Linked DNA regions of Homo sapiens. The protein of the gene in region 1 purifies or fractionates together with the protein of each later gene. This does not show direct contact. Each region holds a gene or a part of one and is shown in the gene's direction. Other genes may lie near its edges.

The links.
Region 2: the proteins of PTPDC1 (region 1) and CSN3 purify together in Homo sapiens (affinity purification with mass spectrometry, with the first as the bait; one large-scale study listed by BioGRID). This does not show direct contact.
Region 3: the proteins of PTPDC1 (region 1) and FOXRED2 purify together in Homo sapiens (co-immunoprecipitation; one large-scale study listed by IntAct). This does not show direct contact.
Region 4: the proteins of PTPDC1 (region 1) and PTGES3L purify together in Homo sapiens (affinity purification with mass spectrometry, with the first as the bait; one large-scale study listed by BioGRID). This does not show direct contact.
Region 5: the proteins of PTPDC1 (region 1) and GPSM1 purify together in Homo sapiens (affinity purification with mass spectrometry, with the first as the bait; one large-scale study listed by BioGRID). This does not show direct contact.
Region 6: the proteins of PTPDC1 (region 1) and GAPVD1 purify together in Homo sapiens (affinity purification with mass spectrometry, with the first as the bait; one large-scale study listed by BioGRID). This does not show direct contact.
Region 7: the proteins of PTPDC1 (region 1) and TIPRL purify together in Homo sapiens (affinity purification with mass spectrometry, with the first as the bait; 2 studies listed by BioGRID). This does not show direct contact.

Annotation. Positions count from the first base shown.
Region 1 is NC_000009.12:94,087,464-94,090,963, forward strand, and holds part of PTPDC1 (protein tyrosine phosphatase domain-containing protein 1), read left to right. Parts: intron 1-367; coding exon 368-448; intron 449-681; coding exon 682-800; intron 801-3,500. UniProt on the Homo sapiens protein: May play roles in cilia formation and/or maintenance.
Region 2 is NC_000004.12:70,245,597-70,248,764, forward strand, and holds part of CSN3 (kappa-casein precursor), read left to right. Parts: intron 1-2,221; coding exon 2,222-2,254; intron 2,255-3,168. UniProt on the Homo sapiens protein: Kappa-casein stabilizes micelle formation, preventing casein precipitation in milk.
Region 3 is NC_000022.11:36,486,690-36,490,040, reverse strand, and holds the end of FOXRED2 (FAD-dependent oxidoreductase domain-containing protein 2 isoform 1 precursor), read left to right. Parts: coding exon 1-33; 3' UTR 34-2,851; downstream 2,852-3,351.
Region 4 is NC_000017.11:42,970,081-42,973,580, reverse strand, and holds part of PTGES3L (putative protein PTGES3L), read left to right. Parts: intron 1-1,884; coding exon 1,885-1,974; intron 1,975-3,238; coding exon 3,239-3,292; intron 3,293-3,500. Other genes in the region: PTGES3L-AARSD1 protein, read left to right, coding at 1,885-1,974, 3,239-3,292.
Region 5 is NC_000009.12:136,344,539-136,348,038, forward strand, and holds part of GPSM1 (G-protein-signaling modulator 1), read left to right. Parts: intron 1-3,500. UniProt on the Homo sapiens protein: Guanine nucleotide dissociation inhibitor (GDI) which functions as a receptor-independent activator of heterotrimeric G-protein signaling.
Region 6 is NC_000009.12:125,352,326-125,355,825, forward strand, and holds part of GAPVD1 (GTPase-activating protein and VPS9 domain-containing protein 1), read left to right. Parts: intron 1-2,328; coding exon 2,329-2,516; intron 2,517-3,318; coding exon 3,319-3,500. UniProt on the Homo sapiens protein: Acts both as a GTPase-activating protein (GAP) and a guanine nucleotide exchange factor (GEF), and participates in various processes such as endocytosis, insulin receptor internalization or LC2A4/GLUT4 trafficking.
Region 7 is NC_000001.11:168,199,286-168,202,609, forward strand, and holds the end of TIPRL (TIP41-like protein), read left to right. Parts: intron 1-617; coding exon 618-761; 3' UTR 762-2,824; downstream 2,825-3,324. UniProt on the Homo sapiens protein: May be a allosteric regulator of serine/threonine-protein phosphatase 2A (PP2A). Isoform 1 inhibits catalytic activity of the PP2A(D) core complex in vitro. The PP2A(C):TIPRL complex does not show phosphatase activity.

The DNA of each region.
Region 1 (3,500 bases):
ACCTTTTGTACAAGAAAAAGCAGATAAATAAGAATAAATATTCATATTTGCTTATATTTGCAAAAATAAACACTAAGATGGTAAACATGAAGTTAATACAAATGATTACATATGGGGAACAAACTGAATGGAGTGGATGAAAACGGTTGAGAGCAAACATTTTAGTGCATACCTTTTTGTATTGTTTTGATTTTATTGAACCATGAAACTGTATTATCTGTTCAAATAAAATTTATACACAAAAAAGAATATTCTAACAGAGTTGTTGAAATCATAGAAAAAATCATCTCTCAGGACTGGAACATCTCTTTGGACTGGAACTTCCTAGGTTTCAGCACATCTCACCAGTCCCTCCACCTATTTGCAGGGTCACTGATAATATACTGGCCATGGCCCGCCCATCCTCTGAGCTCCTGGAGAAGTACCACATCATTGATCAGTTCCTCAGGTAAATGCTGTATTGTTCACACACGAGTGAGCAAACTCATGTGTTTTTTTCTTTCATTGCCTTTGTTTCAAGTGAAAGAGTGCTTTCATTTTAACAATAGGCAGTGAAGAGTGTATTTCAAATGAGAAATTAAGATTTTTGAGAGTAATTAATAATGTTGATTAATACCAAAAATGGTTAATTTTTTTTAAATGCTAGCTCCCAATATGACTGACTGCCCTTTTTCCTTTAAGCCATGGCATAAAAACAATAATCAACCTCCAGCGCCCTGGTGAGCATGCTAGCTGTGGGAACCCTCTGGAACAAGAAAGTGGCTTCACATACCTTCCTGAGGCTTTCATGGAGGCTGGCAGTAAGTTCCTCCCACCCTCCTCTCATGAATTATCAAGGGCAGCACTCAGAGGCTTTTCTCTGCTGGGTTCTTAGATTAAAAAGATGATGGAAATAAATACCTTCTGCATCATAGTAAGGTTTAGAAAAAATGAGCTACCATTCTCTTTGGTATTGCTGTTGAAAGTAAAGGATTTCTTTGTTCCTGTAAGAGGGATGTTGGGAGGAGACCCTGTAGTAATAATGATTAACATTTAGTTAATGCTTACAGTGTGCCAGTCACTATTATCTCATTTAACCCTTAAAGCAGTTGTGTAACAAAATTATTATTTCTGTTTTACATATGAAGCCACACGGGGCTTAGAGAATTACCTGTTTGCCTAAGATCACACAGCTTAGAAATGGTAGTCAGGTTTGGAACCTGGACATGCTCCAGGTTTACTGCTGTCCAGCCCTGCTCCCAAAATGATGCCCAGGAATTCTACTTCTAACAATTTCAAAGCCGCCTCAATCACAGGAGCTTTGGGATGAAATACACTCAACATGTGTCCTTCAAACCAGGCTGGAAAGGATAAACAATCTTGGAACTTGTTTTTAAGAAGCTTATTTACACTAGATAGAAAATCCATATATACTGTCTTAAGCTATTTATCAGTCATTTAGACACATTTCCCTGCTTAAACAAGAATGTATGCTTTCTCTCCAAAGCTGAGTAACTATAGCATGAATCATTGACTTTATTAATTTGTAATTATACTTCGCCATAATTCTTTCTGGCTGAGTTTCTGCAGGAAATGTCTTTTTTTTTTCATATTTACATTTTTATTTTATTTTTTTTTAATTTTTTTTTATTATACTTTAAGTTTTAGGGTACATGTGCACATTGTGCAGGTTAGTTACATATGTATACATGTGCCATGCTGGTGCACTGCACCCACTAACTCGTCATCTAGCATTAGGTATATCTCCCAATGCTATCCCTCCCCCCTCCCCCCACCCCACAACAGTCCCCAGAGTGTGATATTCCCCTTCCTGTGTCCATGTAATCTCATTGTTCAATTCCCACCTATGAGTGAGAATATGCGGTGTTTGCTTTTTGTTCTTGCGATAGTTTACTGAGAATGATGATTTCCAATTTCATCCATGTCCCTACAAAGGACATGAACTCATCATTTTTTATGGCTGCATAGTATTCCATGGTGTATATGTGCCACATTTTCTTAATCCAGTCTATCATTGTTGGACATTTGGGTTGGTTCCAAGTCTTTGCTATTGTGAATAGTGCCGCAATAAACATACGTGTGCATGTGTCTTTATAGCAGCATGATTTATAGTCCTTTGGGTATATACCCAGTAATGGGATGGCTGGGTCAAATGGTATTTCCAGTTCTAGATCCCTGAGGAATTGCCACACTGACTTCCACAATGGTTGAACTAGTTTACAGTCCCACCAACAGTGTAAAAGTGTTCCTATTTCTCCACATCCTCTCCAGCACCTGTTGTTTCCTGACTTTTTAATGATTGCCATTCTAACTGGTGTGAGATGGTATCTCATTGTGGTTTTGATTTGCATTTCTCTGATGGCCAGTGATGATGAGCATTTTTTCATGTGTTTTTTGGCTGCATAAATGTCTTCTTTTGAGAAGTGTCTGTTCATGTCCTTTGCCCACTTTTTGATGGGGTTGTTTGTTTTTTTCTTGTAAATTTGTTTGAGTTCATTGTAGATTCTGGATATTAGCCCTTTGTCAGATGAGTAGGTTGCAAAAATTTTCTCCCATTTTGTAGGTTGCCTGTTCATTCTGATGGTAGTTTCTTTTGCTGTGCAGAAGCTCTTTAGTTTAATTAGATCCCATTTGTCAATTTTGTCTTTTGTTGCCATTGCTTTTGGTGTTTTAGACATGAAGTCCTTGCCCATGCCTATGTCCTGAATGGTAATGCCTAGGTTTTCTTCTAGGGTTTTTATGGTTTTAGGTCTAACGTTTAAGTCTTTAATCCATCTTGAATTGATTTTTGTATAAGGTGTAAGGAAGGGATCCAGTTTCAGCTTTCTACGTATGGCTAGCCAGTTTTCCCACCACCATTTATTAAATAGGGAATCCTTTCCCCATTGCTTGTTTTTGTCAGGTTTGTCAAAGATCAGATAGCTGTAGATATGTGGCGTTATTTCTGAGGGCTCTGGTCTGTTCCATTGATCTATATCTCTGTTTTGGTACCAGTACCATGCTGTTTTGGTTACTGTAGCCTTGTAGTATAGTTTGAAGTCAGGTAGTGTGATGCCTCCAGCTTTGTTCTTTTGGCTTAGGATTGACTTGGTGATGCGGGCTCTTTTTTGGTTCCATATGAACTTTAAAGTAGTTTTTTCCAATTCTGTGAAGAAAGTCATTGGTAGCTTGATGGGGATGGCATTGAATCTGTAAATTACCTTGGGCAGTATGGCCATTTTCACGATATTGATTCTTCCTACCCATGAGCATGGAATGTTCTTCCATTTGTTTGTGTCCTCTTTTATTTCCTTGAGCAGTGGTTTGTAGTTCTCCTTGAAGAGGTCCTTCACATCCCTTGTAAGTTGGATTCCTAGGTATTTTATTCTCTTTGAAGCAATTGTGAATGGGAGTTCACTCATGATTTGGCTCTCTGTTTGTCTGTTGTTGGTGTATAAGAATGCTTGTGATTTTTGTACATTGATTTTGTATCCTGAGACTTTGCTGAAGTTGCCTGTCAG
Region 2 (3,168 bases), on another chromosome or scaffold:
CATCTGGGTATTCTAGGCACTGACAAAGGAGGCAAGCATAAATAATGGTATATGTCCTCCTCCTAGATTGTAAAATTTTGAGGAACACTAGTCCTCGTTCTGTGAATCTCTGTAATATTTATTTATTATTAAGTTTAGAGTTGCTTTTAAGTTAACATCTATTAATTAATTCTATTACCTGCATGTTGTGCTTGTGTATAACATGTCCATTAATTCTATTAGGTCAATTCTTGGAGTCAAAATTACCTTTTAAAACTTTGAGTTCTACAACTCAATACTTTGTGGTCACCTGAACATTTGGAACTTAGGTTGTCTCTTTGAGTAATAGGGCTTAAAGTTTAAATCATGAAATGATCTACAAATCCCTGCTGCATAGCAACCTCTTCCTGAGCTACCTGAGCCGGATTCGTCTTTCAAACATTCCTTCCCATTTTCACAAAGGCTTCAGGCCTCAGGGACATGAACAAATATACAGAAAAAAAAAAATTTATTGATTTTACCATTCAATCTTATGAGTAGTCAAATTTATACAAATTAAAACATCAATGTGATACCATGTTATATGTACTATTTTATCCCTTCCCCCAAAATAAAAATAGTTAGATAATATTTTACTAGCACTTATGCACTAAACTGCATAAACACATAGCCTATTGGTGACATTATAATTTGACACAACTTTTCTATACCACAATTTCATAATTTCTATCAAAGAATCAAATCTCATTTGTGAAAAATCATTTTAAGGTATTAACGAAAATTATTAAAAAGGCCACTGGTATACAGATGTTAATCATCACTCTGTTTATAATTAAAATTTTATCTTAATAGATAACGATAAGAAATAAACATTTCATGACATAATCATTGATCACTTAGTTATCAACTATAAAAATGTAACTATGAAACCTATGATATAAATAAAAAAAAGAGACACCACATTTCCTATAAAAATGCAGGATACTTTTTAGACAAGCATATACCAGGAATACATAACATAGGTTGATATCGCATTAAGGTATCTAGATTGTCAGAATTTTTTAAAGTATACTTTCTACAATATTCATATTACTTCTTTTTTTTTTTTTTTTTTGAGACAGAGTCTCGCTTGGTCGCCCAGGTTGGAGTGCAGTGGCACAATCTTGGCTTACTGCAACCTCTGCTTCCCAGGTTTAAGCGATTTTCCTGCCTCAGCCTCCCAAGTAGCTGGGACTACAAGTGCCCGCCACCATGCCCAGCTAATTTTTGTATTTTTAGTAGAGGCAGGGTTTCACCATGTTGGCCAGGCTGGTCTTGAACCCCTGACCTCAGATGATCCACCCACCTCTGCCTCCCAAAGTGCTGGGATTACAGGGTGAGACATGTGCCCGGCCTCATATTACTTCTTTACATTTTAAACTAATGATTTAATATATTTAAAGAAAAGCAAGTCTTTGTCTCAAAGCAAGGAAACTTTATTACCTTCTCAATTTTCTGATTTTCTATACTCACACCTTCCAAAAGGTTTCTAGAGTCATTTTATACCCAAGGAATACATGTGTAATGTCCTAAAACAGAACTGTCAATTTAAAAATATTTAATATTATACCTCCTTTCAAAAGTTTCTAAAAGCTTTGGAGTTTTTAGTTTTATAAATATGTGTCCATAAAAATTGTTTTCTCACTCCTGATTCTCTAAATATGTCACAATCCAAAACTAAGAAAAGCACTATAAAAACAAATGAAAGATGGTATTAAAAACACTATTATTTATATGTTAAGTTTATGCAAGAGGCAATATTTTAAATCTTCTAAGTAAACCTTATGAATCATCTTAGTATGAGAGCAGAGAAAGGAAAAAAGGCTCAATGCTCCTCTAATTTTTAACAATCTAACAATGTATATTTAATAAAAACTAAATAGAAATTATTCATATTTTTCATTTAAGCATATTTGTTGGCATGGGAGTCAGATGACTAGATTTTTCCCACAGTGACTTTTTCATTCTAGGTGGTGATGTTTAAAGACAATATAAACATGCAGTTTATTATTACTAATCAGTTAGACTACTGTTGCTTCTTAAGTAGTCCATAGGCCTCATAGATCACTCATGAAAAATGTTTTAAAAAATAAAAAGAAAACATATTTTGTCTTTAACACAAAAGATTTTTTTAACTGATTTAAGTACTTTTTTTTTCTTTTTTAACTTATTTCTCATTATTTCTTCTTCTGGAACTCCCCAGGCTGTGGAGGTTCAAAACCAGAAACAACCAGCAGTAAGTCTATTTTAATTACTTCTGTTACAGGCATGAACTACAAAATATATTCTGCAAAGGTCAATTGTATTATAGATGCCTTCTGTCTAAAACCTAAATATTTCATTTCCATAAAACAATCTAATAATATTTGCAAGAAAATAATTTCAGCAACAGGTGATATGAATCAACATTGATGTTCATCTGAAAGTTTTATTTTCTTATATAACCCAAATCATGTATCTTTGGTTTTCATGTATATTTAGCAATATGAGAAAACTCTTTCAACATTTCATATTGGAAAAAAATGAAAACATAAGTAAAGCTTAATATTTCCCCTTTCCACTTTTTAAGACAAGGGAAGATCCTTTTCTGACCCATCTTTGAATACTTCTCATACATCTATATTTACTTCCCCTTTCGTTTCCCAAATATGTTTGAATACATTTAAATGTGTCTCGTTTTAGGAGAAATGTTTGCTTTGTAGTATAATTTTGTCAATTTATTTCTATTCATATGGAAAGGTCTACTGACAAATTTTTAAACAGAGGCACATAGATATAGACAATTCTTTATCTAATCTTTTGTGAAGAAAATTAAACCAAAAAAAATCCAAAATCTAAATCCAGGAATCTCTCCACATCACATTATGTTACTATTCTGCTATAGTTTAGGAAAAAATAAATGTGCTCTTGGGCTAATTTTTAAATGAATAAAATTTGAGACCAATTACAAATATGTGGTGAGAATACATACGTGTGTGTGCGCCATTCTGTGTGTGTCTGCATGTTGTGCTTGTGTATAACATGTCAAAGTTCTCAATGAGATTTTTCTCTGTGTTGTACCTACAATAGCTAACATATAAGATCACTTTCCATATATGCCAATCTCTGGGCAATATGGTTTACATTATGAATAAACTCATCTAATTTCTT
Region 3 (3,351 bases), on another chromosome or scaffold:
CAGTCCGTCGATAGCAACAAAGAGGAGCTCTGACTGTCCCTTCCTAAGCTGTGGGCACAGTGGCCAGGCCTCCCCACCTAGGCCCATGGTCAGTCCCTCTTTCCCCGCAACCTCACACTCCCGCCAATGCGTGATTGCCAAAGACCACTCAGATCATGGCAGTGTCTGCAGCAAAGCCACCAGATGGCACGTGAGGGCTGAAAGTCGGGGATGCGGTGGTCTCCTCCCTCCTGTCAGGGGGCAGAAGGGCATCCTCTGCCAGGTGGGAGCTGCCTTCCCCAGCCCAGTTTGTCTGCAATGGAGCTGTCGCTGAGCCCCAGGCCAGCCCAGTTCTGCCCCGTCTCAAGTGCTCCTCTTCCTTCCAAGCCCCTCCTCAGATGGGCCTGCATCCCGCCTGTGGAGTGCTTCACAGGGGAAACCCATCCGCATCTTAAGAGTTTGTGGCAAGCGCTTTAAAACAAAAGCTCTGATATCCTCAACAACCACAATGGGCAGGTGGGATTGTTGCCCCAGATGACTGCTGAAGACACCAGCTGTGGGATGTCAAGTAATTCCAGGGACCCCCAGCTGGGAGTCCCCGTCTGTGTCACTTGCCACACACTGCCTCAACCTCCCCGCCCCATTTTCAGCAGGGTTTGGGCTTAGCTACAGAGCCCAAGAGGGTCAGCCCTGCTTATCATCATAGGCCCAGCAGGCTGATCTCGAGCAGCGATAGGACAGCTCCCTGCAAAGCCATCTTAGCAACTTTCTCACTGAGAAGCAGGATTCAGAGCTGCTCTCCCCAGTTGCACCCCCTGACTCATCTTCCAGCTGGCTCTTCTCTCCCATCCTACTCCCTTCTGTCTCCCTGCCCTCTGCCATCCTGAACCATGCCTTGCTTCTAACCTGCCTGGTCAAGTTTTGTGAAACTTATCCTGCTGTCTCGGGCTGGCACCCATATGTGCTCACCATGTGTAAGGTGACATTTCCAAATGCCTTTGTGTGATAATGATGATGAATTTGGTTCCTAGTCTCTTCTTCATTGCCCTTCCTCACCAGCAATCTGCACTTTCCCATCAGGCGTCTTAGTCTCATTTGTAAGTGCATAAGATAATCACAGTGATTTTTCAAAGCCCAGGATCATAAGTGATTGCTTTTTCACTGGTTCTTACTAACTCTTCATGTATCCACTCAGAATTCCAAGGACAATCCCAGCACTCTGGGAGGCCCAGGCAGGTGGATCACCTGAGGTCAGGAGTTTGAGACCAGCCTGACCAACATGGAGAAACCCTATCTCTACTAAAAATACAAAACTAGCCAGGCGTGGTAGCACATGTCTATAATCCCAGCTACTGGAGAGGCTGAGGCAGGAGAATCACTTAAACCCGGGAGGCAGAGGTTGCAGTGAGCCGAGATTGCGCCATTGCACTCCAGCCTAGGTAACAAGAGGGAAACTCCATCTCAAAAAATAAGTTAATTAAATTAAATTAAAATAAAACATGCGCTGGGTACAGTTGCTTACACCTGTAATCCCAGCACTTTGGGAGGCCAAAGTGGGCCGATCACCTGAGCTCAGGAATTCGAGACCAGCCTGGCCAACATAGCAAAACCTTGTCTCTACTAACGGTAAAAAAAATTAGCTGGGCATGGTGGAGCATGCCTGTCATCCCAGCTACTTGGGAAGCTGAGGCAGGAGAATTGCTTGAACCTGGGAGGTGGAGGTTGCAGTGAGCAGAGACCGAGCCACTGTACTCCAGCCTAGGTGACAAAGCAAGACCCACAGTAAAGCCCCCACACCCCATCTCAAAAAAATAAAAAATAAAAAAGAACAAAGTATGCTACAACAAAAGTGAAAAGAGAAAAAGAATTCCAAGAACCCGGGCTTTCTGGATCCAAAGCTCTTTCATGGGGACGTCCTCTTCCCCTCTTGGCTTGGTCCAGACTTTTTCTTTTTCTTTTTTTTTTTTTTTGCAATGGATTTCGCTCTTGTCACCCAGGCTGGAGTGCAATGGCACGATGTCGGCTCACTGCAACTTCTGCCTCCCGGGTCTAAACAATTCTCTTCCCTCAACCTCCCAAGTAGCTGGGATTACAAGCGCCTGCCACCACGCCCAGCTAATTTTTGTATTTTTAGTAGAGACAGGGTTTCACCACATTGGCCAGGCTGGTCTCGAACTCCTGACCTCAGGTGATCCACCTGTCTTGGCCTCCTAAAGTGTTGGGATTACAGGCATGAGCCACCACGCTCGGCCCAGTCCAGACTTTTTAACTACCTGGCCCCACTGCAGACACAGTTCCCTCTAGTCCTTCCCAGAGTTACAAGAAGAGAACTCCAGTAGCCTTATTCTGTCAGGGACGAATTGTTTACCCCATGATAATGTAGGATATCATAAATTCTTCTTCAAAGGTTTTAGCCTGTAATTTGTTAAGTACATTGAGTTCTGAGATCCTCTCCAAAGAACCAATGTATCAGTATGTTCAGCTCACCTGTTCTTTGTTCTTCATTTTAACTTTTAATTTCCTCATTCTTTATGTCTCCTTGCCCCTAGTTTCAGTAAACAATCCCCTCCTAGCCTCTGTCACCTGCTCTGACCTGAGTCACCTTTAGTCACCTGGTCCGTAACCATCTTTCCTGTCTAAACTTCTCACCCCACCACTCTGGCTTATACCCCTGCTCTCTTTAAAATAGCCAGTCAGAATTAGCTTAGATTGTGCGGTCCAACCCTAGCCCATAGGGGAACAACACAGCAGTAGGGGGTACCTGCATCAGGGATAAGAACCCATTCCCCTCCCTTGTTCCGGTGTGCTCTCGCCATTGCACCATCCATGAGACGCACTCTTGTATAGAAGTAAAATTGCCTTGCTGAGAAAATGTATGTTTGAGTGCTATTTCTTTTGTGGCACTGAAAATTTATTTCTAACAAATTTGGGGTCTCATTTGGGATTCCCATCCTCCTCTGAGGAGGGTCTAGACCTCTCCCATGAGGAGGCACGTCCCACTGCCTTGTTGCGGTGGCCACAGGGGTAAGGAATCGAGACCAACCAGTGTGACGAATAAACCTATACTCTCAGCAAGGCAGAAAGAAACGGGCTGGCGACCTGGGGGAAAGGATCCTCATGTACCACAGCGACCAAGTAAGTGTGCAGAGACCAAGCTAAGAAACATCGCAGGGGTGACAAAGTATTTCCTTGGTGGTCAGGATATTCTGGGGGTTGAAAGTGTGCATGAATGCAAGGAGCCTCCAGCAGGTGGGGCTAAAGGATAGGCGAGACATCTCCAACAGGGGAGATTGAGCTTAACCAGGACCCAAGATGGGAAATGCCCCAAGTAAGGTAAGAGATAAAAAGGAGAAAGCTAGCAACAGTAATATT
Region 4 (3,500 bases), on another chromosome or scaffold:
TTCTCAATCTTTTCCCCACCTTTTCCGCCTTTCTATTCCACAAAGCCGCCATTGTCATCCTGGCCCGTTCTCAGTGAGCTGTTGGGCACACCTCCCAGACGGGGTGGTGGCCAGGCAGAGGGGCTCCTCACTTCCCAGTAGGGGCGGCCGGGCAGAGGCGCCCCTCACCTCCCGGACGGGGCGGCTGGCCGGGCAGGGGGCTGACCCCCCCCACTTCCCTCCCGGACGGGGCGGCTGGCCGGGCGGAGGGGCTCTTCACTTCCCAGTAGGGGCCGCCGGGCAGAGGCGCCCCTCACCTCCCGGACGGGGCGGCTGGCCGGGCGGGGGGCTGACCCCCCCACCTCCCTCCCGGACGGGGCGGCTGGCCGGGCGGGGGGCTGACCCCCCCCCACCTCCCTCCCGGATGGGGTGGCTGCTGGGCAGAGACGCTCCTCACTTCCCAGATGGGGTGGCTGCCGGGCGGAGAGGCTCCTCACTTCTCAGACGGGGTGGTTGCCAGGCAGAGGGTCTCCTCACTTCTCAGACGGGGCGGCCGGGCAGAGACGCTCCTCACCTCCCAGACGGGGTCGCGGCCGGGCAGAGGCGCTCCTCACATCCCAGATGGGGCAGCGGGGCAGAGGTGCTCCCCACATCTCAGACGATGGGTGGCCGGGCAGAGACGCTCATCACTTCCTAGATGTGATGGCGGCCGGGAAGAGGCGCTCCTCACTTCCTAGATGGGATGGCGGCCGGGCGGAGACGCTCCTCACTTTCCAGACTGGGCAGCCAGGCAGAGGGGCTCCTCACATCCCAGACGATGGGCGGCCAGGCAGAGACACTCCTCACTTCCCAGACGGGGTGGCGGCCGGGCAGAGGCTGCAATCTCAGCACTTTGGGAGGCCAAGGCAGGCGGCTGGGAGGTGTAGGTTGTAGCGAGCCGAGATCATGCCACTGCACTCCAGCCTGGGCACCATTGAGCACTGAGTGAACGAGACTCCGTCTGCAATCCCGGCACCTCGGGAGGCCGAGGCTGGCGGATCACTCGCGGTTAGGGGCTGGAGACCGGCCCAGCCAACACAGCGAAACCCCGTCTCCACCAAAACCAGTCAGGCGTGGCGGTGCGTGCCTGCAATCGCAGGCACTCGGCAGGCTGAGGCAGGAGAATCAGGCAGGGAGGTTGCAGTGAGCCGAGATGGCAGCAGTACAGTCCAGCTTCGGCTCCGCATGAGAGGGAGACCGTGGAAAGAGAGGGAGACCATGGGGAGGGGGAGGGGGAGGGGGAGAGGGAGAGGGAGAGAGAGAGGGCATAATGCCTATGTTGCTTTATGATACAATTATCTTTCCAGATGTGTTGTCTCCTCAGTCAATCGGCTCCTGGAGGGTGGGACTTCTTTTTTTTTTTTTTTTTTTTTTTGAGATGCAGTCTTGCTCTGTCACCCAGGCTGGGGTGCAGTGGCACGATCTTGGCTCACTGCGACCTCCGCCTCCCAGGCTCAAGCAATTCTCCTGCCTCAGCCTCCCGAGTAGCTGGGACTACAGGTGCCCGTCACCACGCCCGGATAATTTTTGTATTTTTACTAGAGACGAGGTTTCACCATATTGGCCAGGCTGGTCTCGAACTCCTGACCTTGTGATCCTCCTGCCTCGGCCTTCCAAAGTGCTGAGATTACAGGCATGAGCCACCACGCCTGGCCGGAGGGTAGGACTTCTGAGATTTTCAGACTCTATCATGCCTAGCTTTGTGTGTAGATTGGCAGGTTCCTGGTCAAAGGAGTGCAGTTGGGAGGACTAGGGACCTACTGACCCTCTTTTCCCCAGGCGTGCTCCCATGCATATGCCCACACTCTCCCACACACTCCTGCTCCTGCCCTCCTGGCCTGTGACTCTTGGTGCCTCTTCTTGCAGCCAGTGTGGCTGTCTGTGGACTTTGATAACTGGAGAGACTGGGAAGGGGATGAAGAGATGGAGCTGGCTCATGTGGAACATTATGCAGAGGTGAGAGACAACACCTACTGTGTTCTGCCCACTTGATCATTCTTTGTGTTTCTCTGCACACATGTCTCTGGAGGATTGTCACTGGGGCCAAGCAGAGATATGCAAGCTCTCTAGGCAGGTTACTCATTGATGCTGATATTCTTTACGTATTTTGTGCAATGTTTATTTAATAGGGATGAGAGGAAAGAATATTATTGAAATTATATACATTGATTCACTTATTCAGTGTAGAGCCTGTATTCTGAAGAAGTTTGACAAAACGTTTTTCCACTTTTCTGTAATTCTTGTTCTACTGTTTTCTGTGTGTGTGTGTGTGTGTGTGGTTTTCTGTCGCCTAGGCTGGAGTGCAATGGCGCGATCTCAGCTCACTGCAACCTCTGCCTCTGGGTTCAAGCAATTTTGTCTCATCCTCCTGAGTAGCTGGGATTACAGGTGCCCACCACCACTTCTGGATAATTTTTGTATTTTTTTAGTAGAGACGGAGTTTCACCATGTTGGCCAGGCTGGTCTCAAATTCCTGACCTCAGGTGATCCACCTGCCTCACCCTCCCAAGTGGTGGGATTACAGGCGTAAGTCACCATGCCTGGCCTGTGTGTGTGGTTTTCTTTTTGAGACAGAGTCTTGCTCTGTCTCCCAGGCTGGAGTGCAGTAGCTCCCTGCAACCTCCACTTCCCAGGTTCAAGTGATTCTTGTGCCTCAGCCACCTGAGTAGCTGGGATTACAGGCATGCGCCACCACCCCTGGCTAATTTTTTTTTGTATTTTTGGTAGAGATGGGGTTTCATCATGTTGGCCAGGCTGGTCTGGAACTCCTGGCCTCAAGTGATCTGTCTGTCTCAGCCTCCCAAAGTGCTCACATTACAAATGTGAGCCACCAAACCCGGCCTCTGTGTGTGTGTGTGTGTGTGTGTGTGTGTGTGTGTGTGTGTGCGCGTGTTAAGCCAGACAACTTCATGGGATGTTAAAACTAGCAGTATAAAAACTCACATCATAAATAATTGGCCCCCAGTAAATCACACACTGTCGTTATATTATTTGGTTTCAGTTATAAAAACACTAGCCGACTCCAATCTGGATTTGTGTTAAATTTTCTTTTAAGAAGGGGATCAATTTACTTTTCTCAAATTAATTCCAGTGATGTTTTAAAGATGGGAGCAGTTGCCTGACCAGTTCTGGCTGCAACCATTCTTCTATGGACCATCAATGTGCAGATTGTTCTTCCTTCACTCCCTTCTCCCTTGTGATTATTTTTTCTTCCCACTAGCTTTTGAAGAAGGTCAGCACCAAGAGACCTCCACCTGCCATGGATGATTTGGATGTAAGTAAAGCCTTCCCCTCAACCCTTCAGTTTCTTTGTAGCCCTTAAAAACAACCCACTAGAGAGCTCCTATCCCAGTTCCTAGCACACAGTAGTTCTCAGTGCCTGTTAACCAAATTTGAGTTTGACCCAAGAGGGCTAATATTCTTTTTTTGGGGGGTGGGGGAGGAGTTTCACTCTTTCGCCCAGGTTGGAGTGCAGTGGCCCG
Region 5 (3,500 bases), about 42 Mb from region 1:
CTTAAGGCCACTTGTCATTATGGGGCTCCATTCTCATGACCTCATGTAAACCTCAGGACCTCCTAACACCATCCCATGGGGAGTTAGGGCTTTGATCATGATGCTCCAGCAAAGACTGGAAGTCAGAGAGAAGTGAGCCGCAAGCTTAGACGGAGGAACAGCAGTCTGGGCAGAGATAACAGCCTGTGCAAAGGGCCTGAGGCAGGGGCCAGCCTGGTAGGTGAAGGGACAGGGAGACTGTCTGGAGCTGACGGAGCAAGGCGAGGGCCTTGGCCGAAGAAGGGAGGGCCTCGTGGGCCCTTGTGTGAGACCCCCTCCCCAATGGGGCGGGGCCCTCAGGACCCAGCAGAGAAGGGGCAAGGCCTAGGCCAGCCCTTACCAACCCCATGGTCCTTGCATGGAGAGGGGACTTAGGGGCAAGGCTGGGGCAGCAGGCAGGTGAGGGGCAGGTGATCCGGCTCCAGGGAGGTGAGGAGGGGTGGGACTCTGGATCTGCAGTGAGGCGGGGACAGACTGGATTTCAGACCAGAGGTGGGCGTGAAGGAACCGTGGGCAGCTGAAAATCGGGGTTGCTGAGGTCTGAGCCAAGCCGGCGGGGCGGGTGCTGCCCTGAGGGGTCCGGCAGGCACAGGGGGCACCAAGATGCTCGATGGGCTTGAGTTGGCCATTGCACATAAACGTCTGGAGCTGGGTGAGGACAGAAATGATGATGACAGTGTGACGGTCAGCGTCGGGTGGCCATGGGGCGGTGCTGGGAGAAGTTTCCAAACGTTGCCCTCGCAGGCGGGAGAGACAGGAAGCCAAGCCAGTGGGCCGGGCCTGTCTGGGCAGCTCAGCCAAGGGCGCTGGACTCACACTCAACGCCTCAGCCGACTCTGCAGACAGAGGGTGCATTGAGCCAGGCGCAGCGGGCCTTCCGCCCACCGTCCGTGCCTGGCCATGAGGGCGCCCGCCCTGGGGCCAGACGCAGGCTGTGTCTCAGAAGAGCATTTCAGCCGCTGCTGCAGCCAGGGCCCATCCATGCGGTGTCCTGGTGGAGGGCCAGGCCTGGCAGAAGCAGCTGTGCCGGGCCCAGGACCCGGAGGATGCGGTGGGGAAACCAACTTAGGCCCCCATGGCACTGGGGGCGGCAGAGGGAGAGCCAGGCCCTCAGGCAGTGCACACCGGGAGACGGAGCGGGGCTCTCGCTGGGTGTGGTAAGTGAAGGGCCCGCCCCAGCACAGACGTGCTCCTCTGTCATTTCCATGGTGTGGGGAGCAGGCCCCGAACTGTGTGGGGTCAGCAGCTGTCCTCAGAGCTACCTTGCTCATCTGGGTGGGGGTGGGCAGCTGGTGGCCCTTCAGAGAACAGGCCGTCGACCCCAGCCCCGTTCTGTCCCTTCAAGCTGCACCACCCGAGGCTGGGGCGGCTCCACCTCAGTGCCTGGCCGGATCCTGAATGTGCCGGAGCTAACCCTGATCCCGCTGACCACTGTGGCCACAGGGTGGCGATGGGAGCCCTGCCCCGGGCGTTTGTGTTGGGAGTGGGAGGAGCAGTGGACGGCCCCAGGTCCCAGTGTCCTGCTCAGGCCCCTGATGGGCCCCACGTGTGCCTCTGGCCGCACAGGTTTCCATCCCAGGCCCCTGGAGAGCAGGAGCTTAGGGTGTGTCCTCGGAGCCCAGAGGCCAGGCCAGGGAAGCGCACAGCCCACACTCAGCCAGTTCCCGGTCCCTGCCCAGCTCTCATGAAGCTGTAGGCATTCGCCGTGGGCTGGTCTGGGGCCAGCGGGCTGGAGGCGGAAGACCAGCCTGGGCCCCCAAGTCCTCAGCTCCCTCTGCTCCTGTCCCCTTCCCCCCAGCTGCGTTTAGGAGCTCACCATTTAAACGGGTCACATGGACAGACTCAGGAAGGGGCTGCTAGCAGCCAGGCCGATCCAGGGGCTCCCCTCTGCCCCATAGGTAGCACCTTGCTGTCCACCAGGTGCCTTCTTAGCCGTCTGAAGCCCCCAGTGCATCCTCATCACTGCCATTCACTAGGTGGCAGCAGGACCCCCTTCCCAGTTGGGGGTGGAGGCTTGGACTCCATTTGGTGGCACAATGCTCAGACAGCAGCCCCCCAGCAAGACCCAGGCCTGTTCTCATCCGCAGCATGGGCCTGTAAGGGAGACCCTGAGAGACCCTGACACTCGGGCCCATTTCCTCCCTCCCTCATGGTCGGGGCCAGGCTCATATTTAAATCAGGGCCCTGCTGAGGCTGGGGTCAGGGGGATGTTGGCTGAGTGACAGCTGTGCAGGTGAGGCTGGGAGGGGCTGTGTGTGGGGCCCAGTGCCTGAAATGACCGAGTGACTGCCCGCCTGAGCCGGCTCTCTCCCTCTGTGGATGTTGTGTTCCCCGGCAGGGCCCAGAACCCAGGGCTAACGGTGGGGTCCGGGTGCACCTGAGGCCCCGGCACCCTGCCTGGCCATTCATGCTGCTAACTTTGACGAGTGCCCCAACCCTGGTGGCTGTGCTCCCTGATGCAGTGGGGCCTGGACAGGGTAAGGGGGTGTCTGGGCCTGCCCCCCGACATCTGCCTGATGCAGGCAGCCACCAAGCAGCTTCACTTTAGGAGCTGAGCCTCTCGGGGGGATGAGTGCGGAGGGGAACTGCCCGGCCCGGCCCATCCATGCCGGCGCAGTCTGATGAGGAGGGCGCTGAGCTCCGAGGCGTAGTAATGGGGCCAAGTCTGATGGTCTGGAGGTGCCAGGACTGGATTCTCAGAGTGCCCACTGATGCCAGGGCTGGTTCTGGCCCCGCCCTCGGACTCACACTGGGTGTGCGCAGGGCTCCTGGGCACAGCCCGTGTCCAGTGTGTCCACGGGTGGAGGGACGCTTGGTTCCCAGGAAGACTGGGTAAGGGTGGGCATAGGGGGGTGGGAGCTGTGGGTGAGCAGGGAGGAGGATGAGGGTCCTCCCAGCTGCGAGAGTCTCCCTGGAGATGTGCCAGGCGTAGGGACAGCAGAGACAGGGTCCTCAGTGTCAGCCTCGTTCCGCCGTCGTCCCCTCTGCCTAGAACGTTCTGCTGCCCTTTCCACAGTGGCTGTGCCCCTGTCCGTCCCGCCGCCTCCTCAGGGAAGCGCCCGCAGACCCTGGCTCTCAGCCACAGCATCGGGCCCTTCCCACAGGGCTTCCTGCCTGGTTGAGGACATTCCCCACTTCCCGGATTCCATCCCATTTTTTCCGTTCGCCAACTGATTTCTGATCTGCCAGGTCTGTCGTGCCCTGGATACAGGCTCCTGAGAGTGCTCAGGGAGCGGCTGGGCTGAGGTAGGGCCCACTCTCCCAAACTCCCAAATCCTTTCGGGCCCCGCAGGGCTGAGCGACACCCGTCTCTGCCAGGGCTGTGTTGGGACAGGGCTGAGTGACACCCGTCTCTGCCAGGGCCGTGTTGGGACTGAGGCTTGAAGGTGGGCCTGGCTGTGGGGCTTCCCAGGGGCCCGGGACAGGCACTGGTGGCTCCGCTGAGTCTGCAGCTGGCCAGT
Region 6 (3,500 bases), about 31 Mb from region 1:
CTTCTGCCTGGGCATCCAGGCGTTTCTATACATCTTTTGAAATCTAGGTGGAGGTTCCCAAACCCCATTCTTGACTTCTGTGCACCCACAGGCTCAACACCTCATGGAATCTGCCGAGGCTTGGGGCTTGCACTCTCTGAAGCCACAGCCTGAGCTCTGTGTTGGCCCCTTTCAGCCATGGCTAGAGCGGCCGGAGGGCAGGGCACCAAGTCCCTAGGCTGCACACAGCATGGGGACCCTGGGCCTGGCCCATGAAACCATTTTTCCTCCTAGGCCTCTGGGCCTGTGATGAGAGGGTCTGCCATGGAGACCTCTGACATGCCCTGGAGACATTTTCCCCATTGTCTTGGGAATTAATATTCAGCTCCTCATTACTTATGCAAATTTCTATAGCCAGCGTGAATTTCTTCTCAGAAAATGGGATTTTGTTTTCTATCGCATTGTCAGGCTGCAAAGTTTCTGAACGTTTATGCTCTGTTTCCCTTATAAAACTGTATGCTGGCCAGCATGGTAGCTCATGCCTGTAATCCTAGCACTTTGGGAGGCCAAGGCAGGTGGATCACCCGAGGTCAGGAGTTCAAGACCAGCCTGGCTGACATGGTGAAACTCTGTCTCTCCTAAAAATACAAAAAATTAGCTAGGTATGGTGGTGGGTTCCTGTAATCCTAGCTACTTGGGAGGCTGAGACAGGAGAATCGCTTGAACCTGGAAGCGGAGGTTACAGTGAGCTGAGATCACGCCACTGCACTCCAGGCTGGGCAACAAGAGTGAAACTCTGTCTCAAGAAAAAAAAAAAAATGAATACCTTTAATAGCACCCAAGTCACCTCTTGAATGCTTTGCTGCTTAGAAATTTCTTCTGCCAGATACTCTAAATCATCTTTCTCAAGTTCAAAGTTCCACAAATCTCTAGGGCAAGGGCAAAATGCCACCAGTGTCTTTGCTAAAACATAACAAGAGTCACCTTTGCACCAGTTCCCAACAAGTTCCTCATCTCCACCTCAGCCTGGACCTTATCGTTCATATCACTGTCAGCATTTTCGTCAAAGCCATTCAACAAATCTCTAGGAAGTTCCATACTTTCCCACATTTTCCTGTCTTCTTCTGAGCCCTCCAAACTGTTCCATCCTCTGCCTGTTACCCAGTTCCAAAGCTGCTTTCACATTTTCGGGTGTCTTTTTAGCAGTACCCCACTCTCGGTACCAATTTACTGTATTTGTCTGTTATTATGCTGCTGATAAAGACATACCTGAGACTGGGCAATTTAACAAAAGAAAGAGGTTTAATTGGACTTAACAGTTCCATGTGGCTGGGGAGGCCTCAAAATTATGGCGGAAAGTGAAAGGCACATTTCACATGGCAGCAGACAAGAGAAGAGAGCTTGTGCAGGGAAATTCCGTTTTTTAAAACAATCAGATCTCTTGAGACTTAGTATCACGAGAACAGCACAGGAAAGACATGCCTCCATGATTCAATTCCCTCCCACAACACATGGAAATTCAAGATGAGATGTGGGTGGGGAATACAGCCAAATCATATCAATTTCTAAGCAACATATTTGGATATTTACTCTGGAAATGTAGTTACAAATGAGCAGTTCCAAATAGAAGAGTGCAATTTACTTCAGCTTTGCACAAAAGCAGGTAAAGAGGTATGCCTATATTTTGAGGCTAGAACAACTAGAATATCATATTTCTTTTCTTAGTGGTGATAGGAAAGCCTACTTTCCTGGACCAGAGAAGCAGATGTAAGTAGCCTTAGGAATTGCTGTGCTTTTTCTGCTGCCAGTCCCCTGCTCATGATTATGGAGAAAAATGTAACTGAGATGCTTAGGTAGTGAGGAGGCTTCAAGGCTTAGGGAATGGGCACTCTAGTAAATGTGACATTTAGACTATAAGCAAGTAATTGGTGGGGGATGTTTGTGACCTAGTGACATATAACCTGTATTTGTTGTTATTGTTGGTCATCTGTAGCTGTCAATTTCCTATTAAGTATGAGGTCCTATAGCTCCAGTATAAAATACACCAAGTATGCAGAGGGGCTTAGTAACATTTAGTGAATTAGGTAACTAAGTCTTCAGCCCCATAGATCCTCCCAAACAAAATGCAAAATGGGTGTCTGTTCTGCAGCTGGCACCATGATCAGTCTCTACCATGTCTGCAGCCTGACATGCTACTTTGTATATGTGCTACTGAAGAGAGCACAGACATGCTACTTTGTAAAACCAGTCTGTGCAGTAATTTTTCTAAAGAAAAGTTAGGACCCTTATTCTTCAAAGAGAGTATGCACTGAATATATCTGATGTCATGCAAAGTATTTTTCCTTTTAGAAAAAGAGCCCCATATATTGCTTATCTCACTCGTTGTCGACAAGGACTACAGACCACACAGGCTCACCTGGAAAGGCTATTGCAAAGAGTTTTGCGGGACAAAGAAGTGGCCAATCGATACTTTACCACTGTCTGTGTGAGATTACTGCTTGAGAGCAAAGAAAAGAAGATCAGGGAATTCATTCAAGGTAACTCAATACCTTTAGTTTAAGCATCTCTTCACCTGTAATACTGTTGGGAAGATTTAGAAATACTGTTTTGTTTTGCTAGTTTGTTCAAGTATCTGCATGCCTTAAATACCCAATTATTTTATGGAATCTTAATAAATTAAACTTTGATGTCAAACCAATAAATTGCATTTTTCTCCTGGATTGAATATCTGTAGCTTACTTTTTAAATTGGGGACATTGGTAAATTTTTGGATCTATACAAATTTTCTCATTTTTTTTAAAAAGCCAAACATATTTTTTTTAGAAACTTTTGAGACGGAGTCTTGCTCTGTCGCCAGGCTGGAGTACAGTGGCGTGATCTCGGCTCACTGCAACCTCTGTCTCCCTGGTAGCTGCCTCAGCCTCCCAAGTAGCTGGGATTATAGGCACGTGCCACCACGCCCAGCTAATTTTCATATCTTTAGTAGAGATGGGGTTTCACCATGTTGGCCAGAATGGTCTCAATCTCCTGACCTCGTGATCCGCCCACCTCGGCTTCCCAAAGTGCTGGGATTACAGGCGTGAGCCACTGTGCCTGGCCTAGAAACATATTTTTATAACAAATTCCTTGCACTTAAACTTTCACATATTTCTTGCTTTTTCTCCTGATTTAATTATATGGCTACATATTGTCCTAAAATAAACTACACTGAAACACTTTTGGCTTTAAGATCATGGTGTCTGCATAGCTAGTGATTAAAATTATTTCTATGATTTCCTTTTTAAAATTATTTAGATAGTTTTTATTAAACTATTTAAAAATTATTATTTTGCTTTGGAGACTTTCAGAAACTCACCGCAGCTGACGATAAAACTGCTCAGGTAGAAGATTTTCTGCAGTTTCTTTATGGTGCAATGGCCCAGGATGTCATATGGCAAAACGCGAGTGAAGAACAGCTTCAAGATGCACAGCTGGCCATTGAGCGAAGCGTGATGAACCGGATTTTCAAGCTCGCCTTCTAC
Region 7 (3,324 bases), on another chromosome or scaffold:
TCTTTACACTTACCACCCTGCCGCCTTATTTCTTTCTACATAGTCTCCTTTTCTCTTCCGAAAATGTGGTGATTCTGTACCATAATTTGTTTGTTTTGGCATCATTTTTCTTTATTTTTTACTCCCCGGGACCTGTGAAGCCTTCCTTAGAACTTAGGATTCTATAATGGGTTGCTTAAAAATTGGTACCTTCCTATAAACTTGATTTTATTTTTTCACGCTTAGTATGTACTTCTGTCTGGGTATAGAGTATACTTGGAACAGAAAAGTTACTACTTAGATTCTATTGTAGACTACATGCTGTGCTCTAACCGAAGACTAGTGTTTTCAAGTTACAAAAGCAGGAGATACATAGGGTTGGATTAAGATGTATTAAATTCTTAGGACATTTGTGGGAACATTATAGATTATATAACCCTGTGATCTTTGATGAAATCATTCAGTAACAAAGTTGAATGATTCCGTATCAAGAAATACCTATTATTTTTAGGAGCACATATGCATATATTGCACCTGATTTTAAAATTTCCATGCTTTATGAATGCTTGAACCAAAACATTTGTAAAAAATTTCAGTACAGTAACTGAATATGCTAATATGATTTATGTATTTCCTAGCATGTTCCACCTTCCCTCTTCACGGAACCTAATGAAATATCCCAGTATTTACCAATAAAGGAAGCAGTTTGTGAGAAGCTAATATTTCCAGAAAGAATTGATCCTAACCCAGCAGACTCACAAAAAAGTACACAAGTGGAATAAAATGTGATACAACATATACTCACTATGGAATCTGACTGGACACCTTGGCTATTTGTAAGGGGTTATTTTTATTATGAGAATTAATTGCCTTGTTTATGTACAGATTTTCTGTAGCCTTAAAGGAAAAAAAAATAAAGATCGTTACAGGCAGGTTTCACTCAACTGCTGTTTGTACTGTCTGTCTTCACATTCATATTCCAGATTTATATTTTCTGGAGTTAAATTTGGATGATTTCTAAATTATCACAAAGTGGGACCTCAGCAGTAGTGATGTGTGTGTCTCATGAGCAGTGAGCACAGTCTGCATTCATCATGAAACACTATCTTCTACCAGGAGGAGGTTAATGTAAATCACCAAATCCCAATGCCTTGTGACTTTCATAGGATTCCTGATCATGCATGTTGATGTACTGGCTCTTCACTTTGGGCTTTCTGATGTTTATTCACACCTTTGGAGAGTTGCAACTTGCCACATACGAAATTAGTCTCATAGTGTAGTGAACTTCAACCCCAAAATTTTAAAAATGTATTTCCCCCCAGTTTTAAATTGCCTTTGAAATTTAAAAAAAAAAAATTTAGACTTAGTACCAGAACCAAAAATACCTAGATTTTTGGAGAACTTATTACATACATAGAAACATGAATATGGTTTACCACTGTGTGTGTGTAGGATGTTAGAATTATCTGTCCTCCATCTTTAGGTGCTTTTTCTTAAATGTGGTTCTACTTATACTGATATTTTTAATTTCCATCTTCCATGCAACCTCAGAGTGAATAAACCCCTTAAATTTGGTGCTGGTTCGAAAAAGTCTAAAGGGTTTATTAGGGGTTGTTTTTCGCAAATATTACATCAATCCTTAAAGCAACAAGATTAATTTTCTGCTTAAAATATTTGGGAAGATAGGTAAGGAGGAGGGGGTTTTAAAATATAAAAGCAAGTTTTTCTATTTTAAGGTGCATATTTGTAACATTACAGGGGATGAAGTAAAATGTAATTAATTAGCACAAGACTTAGGGAGTACAGAAAATACACAGAAGTAAATTTCAAATCCATTTGATTGTTTTCATAGTGACCCCTTAGTCATTTTATATTCTTGTCTGCCTTTCTAGAAAAATGGTTGTCATAAAGTGGAAAGTGATTAAAAAGCATCAAATAAGAAATTATTTCAAGTGGATTTTTAAAAATATTTTTTTGAAGGGCAGGGGGAAAATTCACCCCTTTTCTGATTTGAAATATGTTGTACATATTTCCATTTGATGGATAAATCATTAAGTAAGAATATTTGATTTAAAGTATTAGCCAACCTCTTCAGGTATTAGCCTGAAGATAAATTTTAACAAAACATATACACTTGGGTATCCGTCATTGCTCAAACTCTATAGTGTATTGCTGGAGCCAATAGGCAGGGTATATTTTATTAGCTAAATTTGATATTTGTCTTCTGCCTTCTGTATCACCTCCAAGCTATAGGAAATCAGGATTTTGTTGGCTTTAAGAAAACACATGGTATGTTCACTGTATATTAAATATACCTGTATTTAATGTTTTCTCTTAGGACAGAAAAGTAGACACACACACACACACACACACACATGTTGTGTTCAGCTTTCTGTTTTATATTATTTGCCATTGAGATTAGAATAGAACAGGCTCTATTCATGCAAACTATATGAAATGAAAAACTTTTAAGACTCTTCATTAATTGGAGCTTCTGGGCAACATCGTGTGTGTGTGTGTGTGTGTGTGTGTGTGTGTGTGTATACAGACATTTTTTTTTTAACTTGTTGATTCAGATGTCTTGGTCCCTGAATAGTCCTAGATTACTTATTTTGAGAATTCATTGTTAAAAATTACAGGGAATTAAAATAATTGCCTTTTTTTTTTTTAGAGGGTAAGAGATGGGTAGAAGAGTATGCCTCTGAAAATTTTATTAGTTTATTCTTGTGGAGAATACCAAGAAAATGTGTATTTGCCCATTGCTAAATATGATATATGCCATTTTGTATTTATTTGTCCCAAGTGTCTTTTTGTAAGAGGAGAATAAACAATAAGGAATTACTGATCAAAGTTTTACTATTTCATTTATTTGAGTTTTTCTTAGAGCTTAATTAAAGAAGTGTGGTTTGGGGTATACTTTTCTTATTTGTGCTTTATGTTTTGAACTCAGTCAACACTGTAGACAGTCTCCAGGCAGGTTATAAATTAAAACCTAACTGATGGTTCAGAATACAATTTCCCAGTTTGCATTTGGGCTCTTGCCTCTCCTCTCCCTCTGTTCATCAATATTTCCATGGATGTTTTTTAACAGTATTTTCTGTATGTTGGGTTAATGTTTTTGGTTTTTGAAAATATGAATACCTGTCGTATGTATTAGTTTTGAGTACTATATGTACAATTATGGTGCTAGGTATAATAGATTACAACAATGAAGCGATGTAGTATATGTTTTTATAGGATTAAAGTCTAATGGAGGAGACAAAGTAAAAAAATTACTAATTTTAATATGTGCAGTGATGGAAATGATACTGACAAGAGAGTAACAGAAAATCAACTAACTTTAGT